3 linked regions of the Homo sapiens genome follow. The protein of the gene in region 2 purifies or fractionates together with the protein of the main gene of each other region. This does not show direct contact. Each region holds a gene or a part of one and is shown on either strand. Other genes may lie near its edges. The genes, in order: RSF1, FAM133B and RRP15.

Region 1 (3,651 bases), on a different chromosome or scaffold from region 2:
CCTATTTGGCAGGCATAGAAACTAAGGCTCAATAGATTAAGGTGCTTAAGAGTCTATAGTTAATGGTAGAATATGATTTCCAACCCAAGTCTGAGTCCAAAGCCACAAAATTATATACCTTGCCATAGTATCATGGTTTCCAAACTGCACCAAGGCACCCTAGAGCATTGTTGCCAACTCCATCTGATAGTTTAAATTTTCAAGTAGGATACAGTGGTAGCCGAAATTTGCTGGTTGCCAGGTGAGCTACTGCCTTGACATACTTCATGGTTTCAAGGTTGTGCCACATTTCTATAGATGATATGTCTTTGTGAAGCTGGTTTTTTAGCGGTTGCTGTGGTAAAATTCACAAAAAAGTCAGTATGCAGCAGGAAAGAGGATAGCAGGGTCCACTCTGATTCCAAGGTTTGAAAAGTTGTGCAGTGCCCAACAGTAATACACATTTCACAAGTAATTATGGTTAAGAATGAAGTAAAAACATTATTTGTTGAAATTTAGCTAGGTTATTTTTTCACATGGCTACTGACTACTTAATAAGTGGAAGTGTTATTATTTCTGGCCTAGGGCTGCTGTGAGAAAATTACTGAGATACTGAGGGTGCCGTGAAGCTAGAATGTTTGAGAACCTTTGCTCTAGAAACTATCATTGAATTTCGGGGCAAGAAAGAAGGGACTATTGTGTCATTGCCTTTATTTTTCAGGAGGAAAATCAAGCTACAGAGAGAGATTTCAAGTGTATACAGCTAACTGTTGGTGTTAGTCAAATTCTTATTTGAAAAGCCCACATATATGCTGAAATTGTCAACAAAAAATTTAGATTTATAGTTGATACTAGTTATAAAAGGATGTGCCAAATGAAGGTGGTGTTTTATCCTCCTCTCCCTGCAGTCTACTTTAGTCCTCCCAATTCTGTGCTTTGTGTGGACTTCCCCAGGTTTCTCCTAACTGGAGGTAGATGATGGTGGTTATGGATAAAGTTGACGTTGACTTTGTGAGATCCCTGACACCCAAGGCTCCTAAGTATCTTTCCTCTCCTGCAGAGAATATTTCTTTTCAAGAGGAAACTATACTACTGTATTCTTTAAAAACAGTCTGGATATTGGTTGAGATGTTACATATATCTAATAAATTTATTAAGGTAAATACAGATAATGTGTTAGGATTCTCATAGTTTATACTATGGTTGGCTGAATTAGTTGTATGATATTAAGTAAGTTGAGCCATTAGTTTTTTGTTTCATTTTTGCATTTAATGATTTGAATTTTAACTCGAAGTGAAAATATCAAAGTTAAAAAAATGCCTTTTTAACTGGAATTGTAACTATAACTTACTATGGTCTCTCTTACTGGTACTGTAACTGATCTGTGTGTAACAATATATTTTTAGGTGCATTTGATAAAGTGGAAAGGTGATTACTGTAACTGGGGCCACATGTGTTGATTTAAACAAAAGATTTTACCAGGTGCATGTACTAGAGGTTGCATGAGTCTACAGTGGTAGACACTGGTAGGGCATACATACATTAATAGTAGTATTGCTGGGGCCAGAGCCTGGTTAGGTTGAAACTTTTTAGTTGTGTCTCTTCTGCCTTTGAAAAAGCAAATATTCTTTAGGGCACTTATTAGATGAAAAGAGAGAAACAGATTTCATCTCCACCATTTTCGATATGTCATAGAGTAAAGTTACGGAGGTTTGGAGGGAGGTTGTTGTCATTGTCCTAGGAACTAGGAGGTAATGGAGACAGAGGGACTTGTCTGGCTAACATGAGCCTGTTAATGCAAACTGGCTTACTTTTTAGTCTTTTAATGATTAAGAAGTTTGCCTTAAATTTAGATGTTTTGTTAAGTTCTTAAACAGACCTCACCGGTAAGAAGGTAAGCAAGCATTTATTAGTGAGGTTATTCACTTAATATATATATTGAGCATCTGCTATGTACAGATGTAGCTACAGTAAATATTGTGGGGATTATTTTTTTAAAAAAACATTAAACATGAGCCTTTTAAAAGAAATTTCTAATCTAGTAAGAAATAGCTAAACTGAGCTTGAAACTAATGACATCATTCAAAGACTTAGTTTTTTTTCTCTGAGATTTTATCAAGTGGAGCAATAGTCCGTGCATTCTAGTCTACAGTTGTAAACTAAAATTATCTAACAATTTTATGGTGAGATGTATGACCACATGCAATATGAAAAAGAATAATTCAGGCCTAAAGTACATGTTAAACTGAATCATGTATTCAAGGAAGACAGTTATGTGTGTTGTTAGATTTAATAAAATTTTACTCTACCTGATGGGTATAGTCTTAATATATTATGCTTGGCTTTTTTTGTTTGTTTTCTGTTTTTATTGTAGAGTAGATCCCACAAAAGGTATTAGGGTATTTTCTATTTTCTTTTAAAAACATTTAATTATATGGGCAATTATAATGTACACTTTGTAATTACATATGTTCTAGCAGGCTTTGATTTTTAATTTGTTTAGCTTTATATGGTCATATCTGTACGTTAGGTTTGCATTAGCTAACTTTTAAACATTTTTGCTCGCTCTTGTACTGTTGGGCACAAGCAGTGCCTCCAGGCAAATTGATGCCTAAACTAGAGAGAACAGCAGGCATTCTCTCCTTACTCTTCCACTTCCCCTTTACTTCCATTTCCTGATCCTCATGTCTGAAGTCACACCACCTTTAGCCATTTGAAGGGGCTGCTTCTTCCATTTTACGCTTTCTTTCACTTGTATGCCATAAAGTGCAGTGCCTGCTAGCTCCAGTGTGCTCTGTATGAGGTTTGCACCAGTGTGTTAGGAAGAAAGGAGGCACTGAAATTAAAAAAAAACCATATTTTGGGGGTTTCCAAGTCACTAAACAATTGAACCACAATAATAGAGGAAACTGACTTAAACAGTATTAAACTGGTATTGCTTCAAACATTATCAAAGGATTTCTGAGGTGAATGCCTACTTTATAAAAATGTATTTTTTCGGCTGGGCACGGTGGCTCATGCCTGTAATCCCAGCACTTAGGGAGGCCCAGGCGGCGGATCACCTGAGGTCAGGAGTTTGAGACCAGCCTGGCGAACATGGTGAAACCCCATCTGTACTAAAAATACAAAAATTAGTCAGACCTGGTGTCAGGCGCCTGTAATCCCAGCTACTCGGGAGACCGAGGCAGGAGAATCGCTTGAACCTGGGAGGCAGAGGTTGCAGTGAGCCAAGATGGTGCCACTGCACTCCAGCCTGGGTGACAGAGCGAGACTCTGTCCTTTTTTTTCCCCCCCAGAGTTAGGGCCTTGAATTCCTGGGCTCAAGAAATCCTCCTGCCCCAACCTCCCGAGTAGTTGGAACTACAGGCACATGCCACCATGCCCAGCTAATTTTTAAAAATTTTTTTGGTAGAGAATGAGGTCTTGCTGTATTGTCCAGGCTGGTCTTGAACTCCTGGACTCAGGTGATACTCCCACCTCGGCCTCCCAAAGTGCTGGGGTTACAGGCATGAGTCACCACTTGTGGCCAAAACTTTTTTTTTTTTTGAGACAGTCTCGCTCTGTGGCCCAGGCTGGAGTGCAGTGGCGCGATCCTGGTTCACTACAACCTCTGCCTCCTGGGTTCAAGTGATTCTCCTGCCTCACGCTCCCAAGTAACTGGGATTACAGGCA
Region 2 (4,379 bases):
CTTGAGGCCAGGAATTTGAGACCAGCCTGGGCAGCATGGTGAAACCCCATCTCTACAAAAAAACAACAAAAAATTAGCCAGGTGTGGTTCCACACACCTGTGGTCCCAGCTACTTGGGAGGCTGACGTGAGAGCATCCCTTGAGCCTGGGAAGTTGAAGCTGCAGTGAGCCATGATGGCGACACTGCACTCCAGCTTGGGCAAGAGTGAGATACTGTGTCTAAATAAATAAATAAATAAATTTATTTGTCCAAGCCCATAGAGAATGAACACTAAGAGTGAGCACTAATGTAAACTACTGACTGGATGATAGTAACATGTCAATGTAGGTTCATCAATTTTAACAAATGTACCACTCTGGTGAAGGATGTTCATAATGGGGAGGCTATGCACGAGTGGGGTCAGGAGGTAAACGGGATATCTTTGTACCTTCCTCTCAATTTTGCTGTAAAACTAAAAATGCTTAAAAAAAAAAGTCTTAAAAAGAAAATCAAGAGTTAAGATGTACAGAATTGAGTGTCAGATGACTGAAGTTTTGGTCCCAGTTTAAAGTCTTACCCCTCCTCTATGCAATGAGGAGACTGAATTAGACAATCCGTGTCTTCTACCTCTTAATTTCTTGTTCTTAATCCCAATCTTTGAAGTGCACACAAAATGTTACCAGAATACTCTGTGCCATAGCTGCATACCAAAAGTAGTAAGTAGAGCCCAGAGCTATCAAAATGTTCTAGTAAATGAAGCTAATTTGGTAAGTTTTTCAAATGTTTTAGAGGAATGTTTCAACCAAAACGTTTTTTCAGTAATATGAAACATTTTAGGTCTGTATATGAAACTGCATCCAAGGTCAGGTGATCTCTAAACATTCAAGGCCCAAGGGTATTAGAAGAGCCCAAAATACTCAAACACCTAAGGATGCTCCTATGCTGAAATGGTGTTATGCTACATAATTTCAACGCCATGACAATCAAGATAGCACAACAAAGTCTCACCTACAGCCAGGAGAAAGAACAACCCGCTATCTTGTAATCAAGATTCACTACCACAGTGGTTCCTAGACATTTTCCATTATAAAGACTATACAGAACTACAAAGTTTTTAAGATGGTGAAATGGTTTGGATCTGTGTCCCCGCCCAAATCTCATGTCGAATTGTAATCCCCAATGTTGGAGGTGGGGCCTGGTGGGAGGTGACTGGATCATGGGGGCGGAGTTCTCATGAATGGCTTAGCATCCTCCTCTCCCCAGCACTGCATAGAGATGATTTCTCAACAGATGCGGTTGTTTAAAACTGTGTAGCAACTCTCCCCGTCCCTCTCTTGGTCCCGCTCCTGCCATGTAAGACGCCTGCTCCTGCTTTGCCTTCCACCATGAGTAACAGCTCCCTGAGGCCTCCCCAGAAGCAGATGCCGCTAAGCTTCCTGTACAGCCCATAGAACCGTGAGCCAATTAAACACTTTTCTTTATAAATTACCCAGCCTCAGGTTTTTCTTTATAAAAGCCATGCAAGAACTGGCTACTACAGATGGCAAGTGTCATCATTTCGTAAATGTTAAGTCTCCTTTGGTGTGAGACACACACAGCTTGCAAATAATTGTTGAATAAAAAAGCGAGTTCAAGAAACGTAGCACATTCGTTTTACGTGCATTTTCCTCATTTTGCTACTCAGTGGCTAAAACTTTGTCACAGGCAAGCCCAGAAATTGTCAGGCTGCAACCTAAGCTTATTGTTATTTCATTATGTTTACTACTCATTCAATCTGATTCATAACCTGAGTTTTTCAGCCCCCTCCCCGCCCCAGCGGTCTAGAATACTTTCCTCCCATCTCCGCTTCTCAAAAGCACCTTTTCTTTTGAATGCCTTTAGAATCTCTAACAACTATCAAGGACCATTTCCTACTCTTTCTGCTGTAAGTTATTTATGCATCTCTTTTATCTCATTCACTAGAGTAATAATTTTCATGCCCAGTACTCGCTCACACATCTTGCCTTTTGTGATTTCAATTAATCTGTAAGGTTGTAGATAATAATGATCCCCTTTTATAAACGACGGCACAGAGAAGAAAAGTAACTTGTTCTAGGTCACCCAACTTCCGACGGAACAAAACTGACATTCCAGTTTTGTGTTGGACTCGAAAGCCAACTATTTTCACGCCATTCATTCCCTCACAGTGTCTATGGGGGCCAGGTCCTACAGGGCGCTGGAGACACGAAAGCAAATGCTGCCATCCCATTTTCAAACGGGAGCCTGCTTGTCGCTAAAACCAGGCGCGCTGCTGGCTCTCCGGCACAGGGACCGCGTCGAGGCCTCTGTGCCTCCCTCCCACTTGGGTGCGCAGGAGAGGGGTGCGGACCTGGGGCGGCCGATACCAAGGGGCGGGTGAGTCGGATGCGTCCAAGGGCCTAAGTCTTCGGAGTTACATGGCGGGGCCAGGTGTGGGGGGGGTTCCCCGAGCCCTCGCGGTTCTAAGTGGGCACTGGGGGCCCGCGTACAGCAGGCAAGAGTGCAAACCAGCAGCGCCAGAAAGAGCGACGAGGTGAGGGAAGAAAAAAGGGGCGGGCAAGAGAGAGCTGGGAACCCTAAAGCGCCAACTGCGTGCGCGGCGCACGCGCATCTGGGATCGGCGGAGGGTGCTGGGTCTCCAGGCCCCACGTCTGAGGGCTGCCGCTTGCCCTCCGGCCCGGCCGGGAACAGCGAGGGTTCTCGCTGTCCTGCCGCCGGGCCCTGCGTCGCCCCACTGTTTTCCCGGCTGAGTACTCACCACCCGATTGTCCCGCTTCCCCATGGTGCTGGATCGAGCGCACAGTAGCACGCCGAGGGAAACCGGGCCGGAGAGACTGCCGAAGAGGGCCTGCCGCAGGTCCTCTTGCCGCCTCCCCACTCCGCCTAGAGAGCGGCACCACGCGGACTCGACGGCCGCGCTCTGCTACAGCGCCCCCTATCTCTGTGGAGGACAGGCCGGCTCCAGAGATCGCTGCAGTTGGCGGAGCGCCTGCAGGAGTCCGGTCGTTCATTAGGCACCCAAGAGCAGGCGACGCTGCGCTTCTGCACCGGAGCCCCACCAAGGCAGCTCGCTTCAGTTTGGCCTTGGATTGTTTTGCTTTCTTCCATTCTTTTTTTTTTTTTTTTTTTTTTTTTTTTTTTTAGACAGACTCTCGCTCCGTCGCCCAGGCTGGAGTGCAGTGGCACGATCTAGGCTCACTGCAGCCTCCACCTCCCGGGTTCAAGCGATTTTCCTGCCTCAGCATCCCGAGTAGCTGAGATTACAGGCGGCCGTCAACACGCCGGGCTAAATTTTTTGTATTTTTAGTAGAGACAGGGTTTTACCACGTTGGCCAGGCTGGTCTATAACTCCTGACCTCAAGTGATCCGCCCGCCTCGACCCAAAGTGCTGGGATTACAGGCATGAGCCACTGCGCTTGGCCTTTCTTCCATTCTTGATACACTGAAATACTCATTCGAGGGGACACAAAGATTCTCCCGATGCTTATTTTGTGCTTGACAGAGTGCAAGTGCTGGGGACAAAGTGAGGACCAAAGAGCCTTGGTCCCTCACGGAGCCCATCAGCTGGTGGGGGGAAAGGCAGTGCTGTCATAGACGCTGCTAACGAAATCACCCTTTAATTTCAATCCCATTCATTCATCACCTGTGCATTCATTTCACACTAATTTTTGAACATGTAGTTTGTACAGTTTTCACTAACTGGGTGGCTGGAAGCTGGAGCTGGGTAGGGCACAAAGATGATTAAGAAAAATCCCTATCGTCAAGGAGCCTGTTTATAAACTCGTAAGGGCAATAAACACACACAGGGCCAACTTTACTGCATAGCATATCGTAATATTGGCACTACTGCACTGCAACTTTAAGGAAGATGATCTGGGCTCCAGAGAAGATAATCATATTTAGTAAGTATTTATAGATAAAGCGACCCCTCTGGGTTCATCTTAGCAAGTATCATTAGGAAGTAGTTGAAAATCAATTAGGATCTTCTCCGGACTCTTGGAAATGGCAAAATGGGAATTACACTAATTACATACAAGAACATGCTTTAAAATCATCTTTCCCGATCTCTGCCTCCCTCCCTCCCTGCATTTTTCATGCTACACTATATGACAGATGCTCCCAACTACCATCTTCTGTCTCAAAACTTTTCCAAACTCTCACATGCAGTCCTTGGTGGTTCTGCTCCCTACTAAGTGTTGATTCTTCCTCAGTAACCCACTTTCCAAAATGAGGCCTCCAGTCTCTCATTTCTCCTCCTCCTCCATTACCCCCGACTTAAGCTGGGGACTCTGACTGAAGACAGGCTTCTTTTTATACACAAGAGGAAGAGGAGAACCTATTAATATTAAGTTATTCTTTCTTTCCTGGCTTATTTTTCATG
Region 3 (3,651 bases), on a different chromosome or scaffold from region 2:
ACTGCAGAGAGCTCTGATTATGCCACTGCACTCCAGCCTAGGCAACAGACCAAGACTTTGTCTTAAAAAAAAAGGGGGTGGGGAGTGGGGGGCCAGCCGCGGTGGCTCACGCCTGTAATCCCAACACTTTGGGAGACCAAGGTGGGTGTATCATGAGGTCAAGAGATCCAGACTATCCTGGCCAACATGTTGAAACCCCGTCTCTACTAAAAATACAAAAATTAGCCGGGCGTGGTGGCACGTGCCTGTAGTACCAGCTACTCGGAAGGCTGAGGCAGAAGAATTGCTTGAACCTGGGAGGCGGAGGTTGTGGTGAACCGAGATAGCACCACTGTACTCCAGCCTGGCAACAGAACGAGACTCCATCTCAAAAAAAAAAAAAAAAAAAAAAGGAAAATTCAATGATTTCTTTCTTTTTTTTTTCCTTTTTCTTTAATCTCAGAGTTTTGTTTTTAAAATTTATTTATTCATTTTTGAGACAGAGTCTCACTCTGTCAGCCAGGCTGGAGTGCAGTGGCACAATCTTGGCCCACTGCAACCTCTGCCTCCCAGGTTCAAGTGATTCTTATGCCTTAGCCTCACAAGTAGCTGGCACTACAGGCATACACCACCATGTTGGGCTAATTTTTTGTATATTTTTTTTTTGGTAGAGATGGGTTTTGCCATGTTAGCCAGGCTGGTCTCAAATTCCTGACTTTAAGTGATCTGCCCACCTTGGCCTCCCAAAGTGCTGGGATTACAGGTGTGAGCCACCATGTCCAGTCTAAATTTTTTATTTTTTGGGACAGGGTCATGCTGTGTCACCCAGGCTGGAGTACAGTGGCACAGTCACAGCTCACTGCAGTCTCGAACTCCCAGGCTCAAGCAACCCTCCCACCTTAGCCTCCCAAGTAGCTGGGATTACAGGCACACGGCACACACCACCATATCCAGCTAGTTTTTTCCATTTTTTTTGTAGTGACGGGGTCTCACTATGTTGCCTAGGCTGGCCTCAGACTCCTGGGTTCAAGCAATCCTCCCACCTCAGCCTCCAAAGTGCTGAGATTACAGATGTATGCCCCCCGCATGTGGCCAAGGAAAATCAAACACTTTCTTTCTGAAAACCATTTCAAGTGGAGCTCTTCTTTGTCTTCAAACAAAAACACACATAAGGCTGGGAGCAGTGGCTCATGCCTGTAATCCCAGCACTTTGGGAGGCCAAGGCAGGCAGATCAATTGAGCTCATGAGTTCAAGACCAGTCTGAGCAACATGGCAAAACCTCATCTCTTCCAAAAATACAAAAATCAGCCAGGTGTGGGTAGTGTACGCCTATAGTCCCAGCTAATCCAGAGGCTGAGGTGGGAGGATGGCTTGAGCCTAACAGGCAGAGGTTGCAGTGAGCCAAGATTGCACCACTGCACTCCAGCAGCCTGGGTAATAGAGCCAGATCTTGTTTCAGAAAACAAAAACAAAAACAAACAAACAAACAAAAAACCCAAAAAAAATCCACATAAGACAAGGTTATGTATTGATAAAATGACAAAAATGTTCTGACCAGAGGCTCACAGGAGCCTAAAACTGTATTTCCTCTAGAAGCAATGGTTCACTAATTCAGGGATTCAGGGTTTCCTGCAACTTTACTGAACATTACTGTAACTAGAATCAACTGCGAATTCACAAATTGAGAGTAAGTATTTATAAACATTTATAGTAATTTGATATTACCATGATGTCCAACAATGTGGTCATGTTTCCAGTTACTCTTTTTCATTGATTTTTTTTAAAAAAAACACCTGTCTATTACAGATTGGAGATTAAAAAACAAAACTCAGAATGGTCCTTCAACATTGATGGTTAAAGAAGCAATTGCCTAGAAGACTGAAGGGAGTAAGGCTGCAATGACAGGCCCAACAGATAGGTACCCTATGAACTAATGTAAACAAAAGAGATGCAGGCAAGGCCAGGCACAGTGGCTCATGCCTGTAATCCCAGCACTTTGGGAGGCCAAGGTGGGTGGATCACCTGAGGTCAGGAGTTCAAGACCAGCCTGACCAACATGGAGAAACTCTGTCTCTACTAAAAATACAAAATTAGCTGGGTGTGGTGGTGCATGCCTGTAATCCCAGCTACTTGGGAGGCTGAGGCAGAAGAATCACTTGAACCCTGGAGGTGGAGGTTGGGGTGACCTGAGATCATACCATTGCACTCCAGCCTGGGCAACAAGAGCAAAACTCCATCTCAAAAAAGAGAGAGAGAGAGATGCGGGCAAGAACTAAAGTAGTGGCAACAGAATAAATGGATTAATTAAACCAAATAGATATGGAAGCAACAGGAAGACTAAAGGATGACACTTGTGTTTCCAGCTTGGATGGGAGTAGATGGCAGTGTCTTTCTTAGAGACAGAAGCAGCTTTGGCAAAGAAAATGTGTCTATGGCATAACCAAGCAGACACAATCAATTGTTATCAACATCGTTATCACTGATCTTGAATTTTACCAAAAATATATGATCTAATGGTTAGATTATGGAATAAAACGAGTGGAATAACAGATAACATCTTGCACCTATGGAGGTAACAGTTTTCTACTAGGAAGCAATATGATATACTGGAAGCACTATTTCCAAGCTTCTTTTCTTATCTGTAAAATAGAAATGCCATCAGCTACCTTACAGGGTTACTAGAATAATTCAAACCTCTTTTCTGGGGAGAGCTCCAGCTTACAAATACCACATTACCAAAGGTGGGAAAACTTATTTGGCAAAAAGAGATGGGACTAGCAGTTTTTTTAGGTCAGAAGAGACATCATCGTCATCACTAATATTTATGAGTGGGTACCATGTGCCAAATATTAAATGCTTACCATATATAAACTCATTTAATTGTTACAACAATCCTAAAGTAGACATTATTATTATCCTCATTTTGTAGATGAGGAAATTGGGGTAGATAATAATAACTAGCACAAAGTCACTCTGAAAGGTAGTACCATCACAGGTGCCTCTTATACAATTGAGTGAACAGGGGAATTTGCTTCCAGAAATAACATATGGATTTTAGGAGAAAGGAAGGAAGGAAAGAATACTCTGGTTATAAACATTGGAAGTGCTATAGAAATCTGAACACAAAAATGTCCCTTGGTGATGAAATCTTCTTGAGTGGGAGGGAGAAAAGTTTGTCTCCATACCAAAGTCTCCTTGTCCCCAATCCTTTCTTTCCTTAGATTCAAAGGCCCAACGCTTTCACTTTCCAGATACTTTTTAAAATTATCTATGTCCTCCTGATTCCTCAAACATATTAAGGTAGTGGTCAAGAGCATAAGCTCTACAATCAAACTTCAATAATTGTTGTATCATTTATCAACTTGCTTATCTGCTTATGTACAGAAGTGGGCAAGTTATAAGCCTCTGTGCCTCAGTTTTTTAAATGTAACAGGAGGATAATAGCAGCATCTATCTCATAGAGTTGTCAGAATTCTCTGAGCTGATATATAGAAGGAACTCAGAACAGAACCAGGCACATAGGAAAGTTCCAAAAGTATAACTATTGTTATTATCCAATTCCTCTAACAGTGTAGTATGCCCAAAACCTATGGTGCTATAAGCTCACATGAAAGTTGCCTGTTTGCAAAATTGAATACTTTCTTTTTGAAAAATATTTCAAGTGGGGCCCT

What was found.
Region 1: the proteins of FAM133B (region 2) and RSF1 fractionate together in Homo sapiens (co-fractionation; one large-scale study listed by BioGRID). This does not show direct contact.
Region 3: the proteins of FAM133B (region 2) and RRP15 fractionate together in Homo sapiens (co-fractionation; one large-scale study listed by BioGRID). This does not show direct contact.

The regions. Positions count from the first base shown.
Region 1 is NC_000011.10:77,814,072-77,817,722, reverse strand, and holds part of RSF1 (remodeling and spacing factor 1), read left to right. Parts: intron 1-3,651. UniProt on the Homo sapiens protein: Regulatory subunit of the ATP-dependent RSF-1 and RSF-5 ISWI chromatin-remodeling complexes, which form ordered nucleosome arrays on chromatin and facilitate access to DNA during DNA-templated processes such as DNA replication, transcription, and repair.
Region 2 is NC_000007.14:92,587,512-92,591,890, forward strand, and holds the start of FAM133B (protein FAM133B), read right to left. Parts: upstream 2,880-4,379; 5' UTR 2,781-2,879; coding exon 2,757-2,780; intron 2,539-2,756; exon of another isoform or gene 2,349-2,538; intron 1-2,348.
Region 3 is NC_000001.11:218,288,269-218,291,919, reverse strand, and holds part of RRP15 (RRP15-like protein), read right to left. Parts: intron 1-3,651.